Linked DNA regions of Homo sapiens. The protein of the gene in region 2 purifies or fractionates together with the protein of the main gene of each other region. This does not show direct contact. Each region holds a gene or a part of one and is shown on either strand. Other genes may lie near its edges.

Region 1 (3,500 bases), 5.6 Mb from region 2:
AGTGGTGCAATCTCGGCTTACTGCAACCTCCACCTCCCGGTTCAAGCGATTCTCCTGCCTCAGCCTCCTGACTATCTGGGATTATAAGCGCCCACCAACACGCCCAGCTAATTTTTGTATTTTCAGTAGAGATGGGGTTGTGCCATGTTGGCCAGGCTAGTCTCGAACTCCTGACCTCAGGTGATCCGCCCACCTTGGCCTCCCAAAATGCTGGGATTACAGGCGTGAGCTACCGTGCCCGGCCCCAAAATAGTTTTATAACAAGGTCATTAGCAACCAAAATGTAAAAGAAATAATTTGTGATCCTGCCACCCCAATCAACGAAGCTTTTTTCCTTCCTTCCTGGCCCCTCCCCGTAGTGTCCATGATAGACATGCCTCACTGGTACATCCCTGCTTCTGTCAGGAGCCCTGCATGGGTGCCACAAAATCTATACAATTTTGAATGGATGCTTGATAGTCTACCAACCTGAATATACCACATTCAACTCAAATGATCCCTACCATTCAGTATTTAGATAGTCTATTAAAATATATATGTATGCATGTGTGTGTATATATACATATAATGTGTGTGTGTGTGTGTGTGTGTGTGTGTGTGTGTGTGTGTGTGTGTGTATGGCATTACTATAAGGACTTTGTAATAAATGTGGCCATGCCTGCTCAGGGCTTAAAAGCAAGGATGTGAGCTGAGCAACATGACCCACTGGTTTAGTTCCCCGCACACACCCCACTCCTGTCCCCACTCCTTCCCCACCCACCAAGCCCTCTTCTCACCAGCTATCCTGGGAGGGGCCTTGCAGAACAGTTACTCACATTCAGCGCATGGATGGGTTTGGTGACATTAAACTTGTCCATGGTGGACAGGATGATGGAGGGTGTGGTCAGGAAAAATAGCCCCAGGAAGAGGGTGAAGTTGATGCCCAGCCACTGTAGCCACCAGCGGAGGCCCTGGATAGAGAGGTTCTTCCTGCAGCGGGAGAGGGGATACAGGTCTCGAGGCTTGTCTCCCAGTGCTCGTGGCTTAGGTGGGTCAGAAGGTCAGATTTAGGCAGACCAAGAGACTAGCCTGGGGGCAAGTTCTCTGCACTGACCTTCAACTACAGAAAGACCAAATCTTAGGTCCCCAAGAGCTCAGAGGGAACAATTATTCTCTCAGATGTGGCTCCCCAGCTAAAGTCTGGGGGCCAGAACCTACCCAAAGAGATGGCATGAGCACCCAAGCAGGCCAAACAAGGCTCCAGCATGGCATTTATTTTTTCTTTTTCTGTTTTTTTTTTTTTGGAGACAGAGTCTTGCTCAGTCACCCAGGCTAGAGTGCAGTGGTGTGATCTCGGCTCACTGCAACCTCTGCCTCCCAGGTTCAAGCAATTCTCCTGCTCAGCCTCCCATGTAGCTGGGACTATAGGCGTGTACCACCACACCCAGCTAATTTTTTTGTATTTTTAGTAGAGACAGGGTTTCACCATGTTACCCAGGGTGGTCTTGAAATCCTGAGCTCAGGCAATCCGCCTGCCTCAGCCTCTCGAAGTGCTGGGATTACAGGTGTGAGCACCACGCCCGGCCCCAGCGTGGCATTTCTTAGACACATCTGCAATGCTTTGTGACTAACGACACATTCTTCCCAACGGGGCTGTAGCTGGGGTACAGGAAGGAGGAAGGCAGGGACAAAGGAGTGAAGGCATAGCTTGCACCTGCCCTGGCCTCTCATCCCAAAGAACAGACCCACAAAGCAATCCTGAGTTTAGGAAGCCTTGTGAACCAAAGAGCAAAACTGTCAGAGGCAGAACTAGAACCGAGCAGAGGGGAGCACTTCAAGCTCATTCTGTGCAAGGAGCTGAGGCAGGGCTGGACAGGCAGCTGCGCTGGGGCTTGCGCTGGGTGCCCTTACCCTCAGCACAGCACTGGAGGCTCACCAGGGCCCCCATGGACACAGCTCAGCTCCCCAGCACGGCCCCAGGCTGACACTGGACCTAAGTAAGGCTGCACAAGCTGCATGCGGCTACTGAGCATTTTAAATGTGGCTGGTGTGAATTGAGAGGTGCTAGAAGTGTAAAATACACACCAGATATTGAAGACTAAGTGTGAAAAAGAGAATGTAAAACATCTCACATTTTTCAAAAATTGCATGTTGAAATAACAGTTTGGATATATTGGGCGAGATACATTATTAAAATTAATTTCAACTGTTTCTTTTTACTTTTTTAGCATGGCTATTAGGAAATTTAAAATTAGATGCAGAACTGGCATTATATTTCTGCTGGGTAGCACTTGAATGCTAGGGAGGAACACTGGAGGGAAGGGCTGGGCAGATACCCCAGTTGGGCCACACCGAGCACATCACAGCATCACAGCCCACAGAATTGCAGATGTGTGGAGATCTCCATTGACTGCCAGGTCACACCTGTGCTCCAGGTGATGGGCAGCTCCCACCAGGAACCCAGGCCTCTCTCCCACCTCTCCTTGGTCTAGGAGCTTACCAGCAGATGTCCTCAGGGTCAGCAGCAAAGGTGACTGTCCACTTGGAGGTATAGAGCTCCCTGCTATGGGAGGACGGCTGGGGCTCACCTTTGCACTGAAGGCTCTGACACTTGCAGGCATTGAAATCTTTCAGGATGCTGCAAGGAAATGTAGCAACAGCCAGGCCCAGGCTACTCAGGTTACCAAGCACACATGTGGCAAGTGGGGACTGAGTAGGAGTGGGAGGCAGTGGCATAGGACCTTTGCTTTGTTGTGATTAGTGTATTATGAGTAACGCTATGTAAGAGGTGCCACGCTAGCACAGTGTGTGGAGAATTTTGTTTAATCCTCGCAACCACCAGCAACAAAGGGAGTACGATTCCCATTTTACAGATAAGGAAACTGAGGGCAACACACTGCTCTTCCATAGGGCCATCCCCCTCCACCCTGCCTGTTAAGCTGGAGCTCTGATCAGTGCTACTGCCAGGCCAGTGGCTCAACTTTTCATTCTGTCACTTTTTCCCCAGGCCCAAGTGTAGCAATAGACCACGTTACACATTGCCTGTTCCCAAGCTTCCCTCCTCAGGGCTCCCACCTCGACCCTCACCATCTCAACAGGTCACAGCTTTTCCTCCTTTAACCTCCCGTAAGGAGCCCAGCAGCCCCTCTACTCCTGCCTCAGATGCCTTCCCCTTTCCTCCTGCCCCAGTGTCTGCAAGGAGGCAGGAAGTCCTGTGTGAGTCCATTCCTAGTGTCACAATGCCTGGGGCAGTGGCTGGACACCTTTCCACACCCCTCTCCCGACCCACCCTGTGCTGCTCCTAAGGCGAGATGACACTGAGACCACAGGCATGAGAGCCTAGAGTCCCATGCCAAGGGCCACTGTGAAAAGCCACTCCCCAGGGTCAAGCTCCCCACTGCAGTGAGCGCCCCAGCGTGCCCCAGGGGTCTTCCCCACAGCTTTGCATTTGTGGGAAGGTGGGGAGCCACAGACAGAAGGATCTGTGGCCCAGAGCAGATGTCTGAAAGGAGGGTGCCTCC
Region 2 (3,500 bases):
GCCACAAAGCAGTAAGACCAGACTTCATGTCTTAAGTAGATAGTATTTACTTTATAAAAACAAAATTTAACAGTTGTCATTAATGTAAACATTGGGAAAGGGTAGGGTTCAGCATCTTTTAAAGCTACAGAGGACAGTCTTCTTTTGTAATTAAATATACAAAGTAACATAAAGTCATACTTTGATAATTCAAATATAGAAGAGAGTGGTATCACTATATCTCTAGCAGCTGTCCACAGTAAAATAAAAGTACTTTTTTTTCTGTACAAATATCTTTATTTTCCTACTTAAAAAGAATCACGTACTCAGTCCAACAGCTTTACCAGGCTTGGCCAACCCAATAAGTTACACACTCACTCAGGTACTTGGAAGGTTATTGGACAGCTCCTTAACCGATCGAGTCAGCACAAAGTGGTCACTTTCCCCATAGCCAGACTCTGGATTTGCCTCCTGGGAGGACACCATGCCTGGCACAGACTGATGGGGTGGCTGCAGTCGAACCTTGCCTCCAGATTATGAACCAGTATAAGTAGCACAATTCTCGTGGCTACTTTCACTTCAGAGTGTCATGTTTATTGATGTGGAGCTTTCTGAGTAGGGAGGTTAAGGCACACCTGCTCAGTAAAACAAATATTTCTTTTAGTGTTCTAGATTGAGGGCAGCAGTCAATGGTAAAATAAATTTTGGTAGCATGTTCCTGAGAGGTTATACAGCAGCCCTGGCTCAAGGATTTCTCCCCCTGCACGATTCCTAAGAATACTTGCTAGTTGATTCTTTGTTTTGGCAATTTGATGGTTTTGATGAATTTGCTGTGATCCAGGGGTATTCAAGTACTTCTCTGAGCATTGGCCTCTGGCTGGGAACATGCTTCAACAGTCTTGAAATGAGGTCCCTGGCTCCCTCTGTTACAAAGTCAGGGAATGTGAATTCTCAACCCGTGATATTCTTTTGTAGGTCTCTTGGTATGTATTTGCCTCAAAAGGAGGCTTCCCAACTAAAAATTCACAGCAAAGAACTCCAAGGCTCCAGAGATCCACCTTCTCATCATGCATCCGACCTTCAATCATTTCGGGGGGCAGGTAGTCCAGGGTGCCACAGAGAGTGGTCCTCCTGGAAGATGGAGCATGTTCTGACCACCCAAAATTTGCAATTTCAAGCTCTCCAGCTGATCCAAGAAGTAAGTTCTCTGGCTTAATGTCTCTATGAATAACTGTTTTTGAATGACAGTAAGACAGGGCACTTGCCAATTCTGTGATATAAGTAGCAGTTCTCTGCTCATCAAACTTTGAAAGTTTCTGAAGTTCTGTATTGACTGTTTCAAGTGGTGTATATTCCAGAATTAGGTAGACTCTGGTGGCATCATGGAAATAACCATACAGTCTGATTATATTAGGATGTTGGAGGTGGGACTGTATTTCTACTTCTCTTCTGAGTTGATGCTCCACTCCTGCTTTCTCCAGCTGAGCTTTAAATAACACCCTAAGAGCCAGAATAAACTTGCTTTGTTTTTCTCTTGCCAAATAAACATTACCAAACTTTCCTTTACCCGGAGGGCGACCAATTTCAAGGTCTTCCAAAGCCCATTGCCTCTTTTTGATTCTTCATTTTTCTGTTTTGATGCCAGTTCCTCCTCAGGATTATTTTCAGGTGCCGACAGCGGGGACTGCTTGCTGTTTTGGGTGTTATTCAGTGGCCTGGAGGCAGGATGAGGTACACTGGTTGCCTGCAATTGCTTCTGCTTCTGATTCTGAACTGGCTTGTGACTGGAGACAAGCTTTTGTGCTTGCAAAGGAACACGCTGCGAAGAATTTGAAGGACACAAGACCCACTGAGCCTGGCCACTATTTGCAGGTAATGGATTCTGACAAGGAAATTGCTGAGTCACGAGAACATGTTCTGGACCTCCAACTGGAGTTTTAGCCTCAACAGGCCCTGAAATGCAGTTTTCTTCAGATTGGTCCGTGATGCCTATGACCCAAGGACCTGAGTCTTCCAAGAGCTCAGCCCAATAAAAGCACTTTTAAACCAACTGATACACCTCTATAATTCACAAGTAATTGAGGTGTTTTATGTTTTTACATATCCTCTAGAGATGAGCTAGGTTAAGAAATTACAACTATATCAGCTAAAAAAATTTAAGATGATCTCATGATTTCTGCTTCCCAATAAACATTTATAACATTAATAAATAAAGTGAAGAAAAGCAAAGGCAAATACCATCAGCAGTTTAAGTCAGGTCCTATTTACCTGCTCTGCTAATGTCATTTTTTCTCTGTAAAATTTCACTGTACAAAAGTTTACGTTCAAAACTCTTTATATTACGGCTTGGCCTAGACTATCTTAAAAGTGCTCAGAACACTTACATTAGCCTATAGTTGGGCAAAATCTTCTAACACAAAGTCTATTTTATCATGAAGGGTTGAAAATATCTCATGTAATTTCTTGAATACAGTACTTCTTGAATACCGTAGAGTACAGTCTCTCATATTTGCTGCTGCTACCCACCATCACAAAAGAGTATCTTACCCATTGTATCACTAGCTCTGGAAAAGATCAAAGTGCAAAATTTGAAGTATGGTTTCTACAAAGTACACATTGCTTTCACATTACTGTAAAGCTAAAAAATTGGAAGCCAAACCATCATAAGTCTGAGATCATCTGTACAGGTTTTACAAAGGGGCTCACTGGTGAAGAGGTCCATTCTGTTCATTTTCTACATGAACTGATCATAGCCACAATAATATCAACATACATAAACTCAAGAATTTGATTTAGAAGAGAAATACATTAAACCATATTTATAAATCTATAGGTATAGTGCAAATTAATCTAGATGTTTGGGGTGTATTTATATCCCCAACTGCCTATGTAACTTGGACAAGTATTCAATCTGTATGTACCTGAGTTTTAGCACCTATAACTGTGCCATACTATATTATAGGCATTAGCCACTTTGGCTACTTAAATTTAAATTAATTAAAATTAACTTGAATTTTAAAAATTCAGTTCCTCAGTTGCACTGGCCACATTTCACAGGCTCAATAACCACATGTGCCTAGAGGTTACCATACTGGACAGTAGAAATATAATGATGAAAATAAACAGGATGATATGATTGAGAACAACAAGTAGGAACAAGGGGGTTGTATTGACTACTTTAGATCTAGATCAGGTGGTCAGAAAAGGCTGCCCTGAGTTGACATTTGAGCTGAGACTTGAATGACAAGATGCAACTAGCATGCAAAGATCTGCAAAAAGCATCCAAGGCATAGACAACAGTGAGGGCAAAAACCTTAGCCACAAATGTGGTTGGCTGGTTTAACAACAAAAAAGAGCGTCTGAAGCATAAGAAATAAGGGGAGAGGTGTATAAGGTCCAAGAAATGGCAGGAAGCAGAGTCTCAAGGGCCTTATACACCATTTAAGAACTTTGGATTTTACGTTAAGTGCAATCAAAAACCATTGAGTGTTATTAAAAGGGCAATGTTAGGCTGGGTGTGG

The links. Proteins that work in one complex are often made in the same cells at the same time.
Region 1: the proteins of RAB3GAP2 (region 2) and TMEM63A purify together in Homo sapiens (co-immunoprecipitation; one large-scale study listed by IntAct). This does not show direct contact.

The regions. Positions count from the first base shown.
Region 1 is NC_000001.11:225,858,381-225,861,880, forward strand, and holds part of TMEM63A (mechanosensitive cation channel TMEM63A), read right to left. Parts: intron 2,618-3,500; coding exon 2,480-2,617; intron 970-2,479; coding exon 816-969; intron 1-815. UniProt on the Homo sapiens protein: Mechanosensitive cation channel with low conductance and high activation threshold. In contrast to TMEM63B, does not show phospholipid scramblase activity. Acts as a regulator of lysosomal morphology by mediating lysosomal mechanosensitivity.
Region 2 is NC_000001.11:220,265,954-220,269,453, forward strand, and holds part of RAB3GAP2 (rab3 GTPase-activating protein non-catalytic subunit), read right to left. Parts: intron 1,763-3,500; exon of another isoform or gene 226-1,762; intron 1-225. UniProt on the Homo sapiens protein: Regulatory subunit of the Rab3 GTPase-activating (Rab3GAP) complex composed of RAB3GAP1 and RAB3GAP2, which has GTPase-activating protein (GAP) activity towards various Rab3 subfamily members (RAB3A, RAB3B, RAB3C and RAB3D), RAB5A and RAB43, and guanine nucleotide exchange factor (GEF) activity towards RAB18.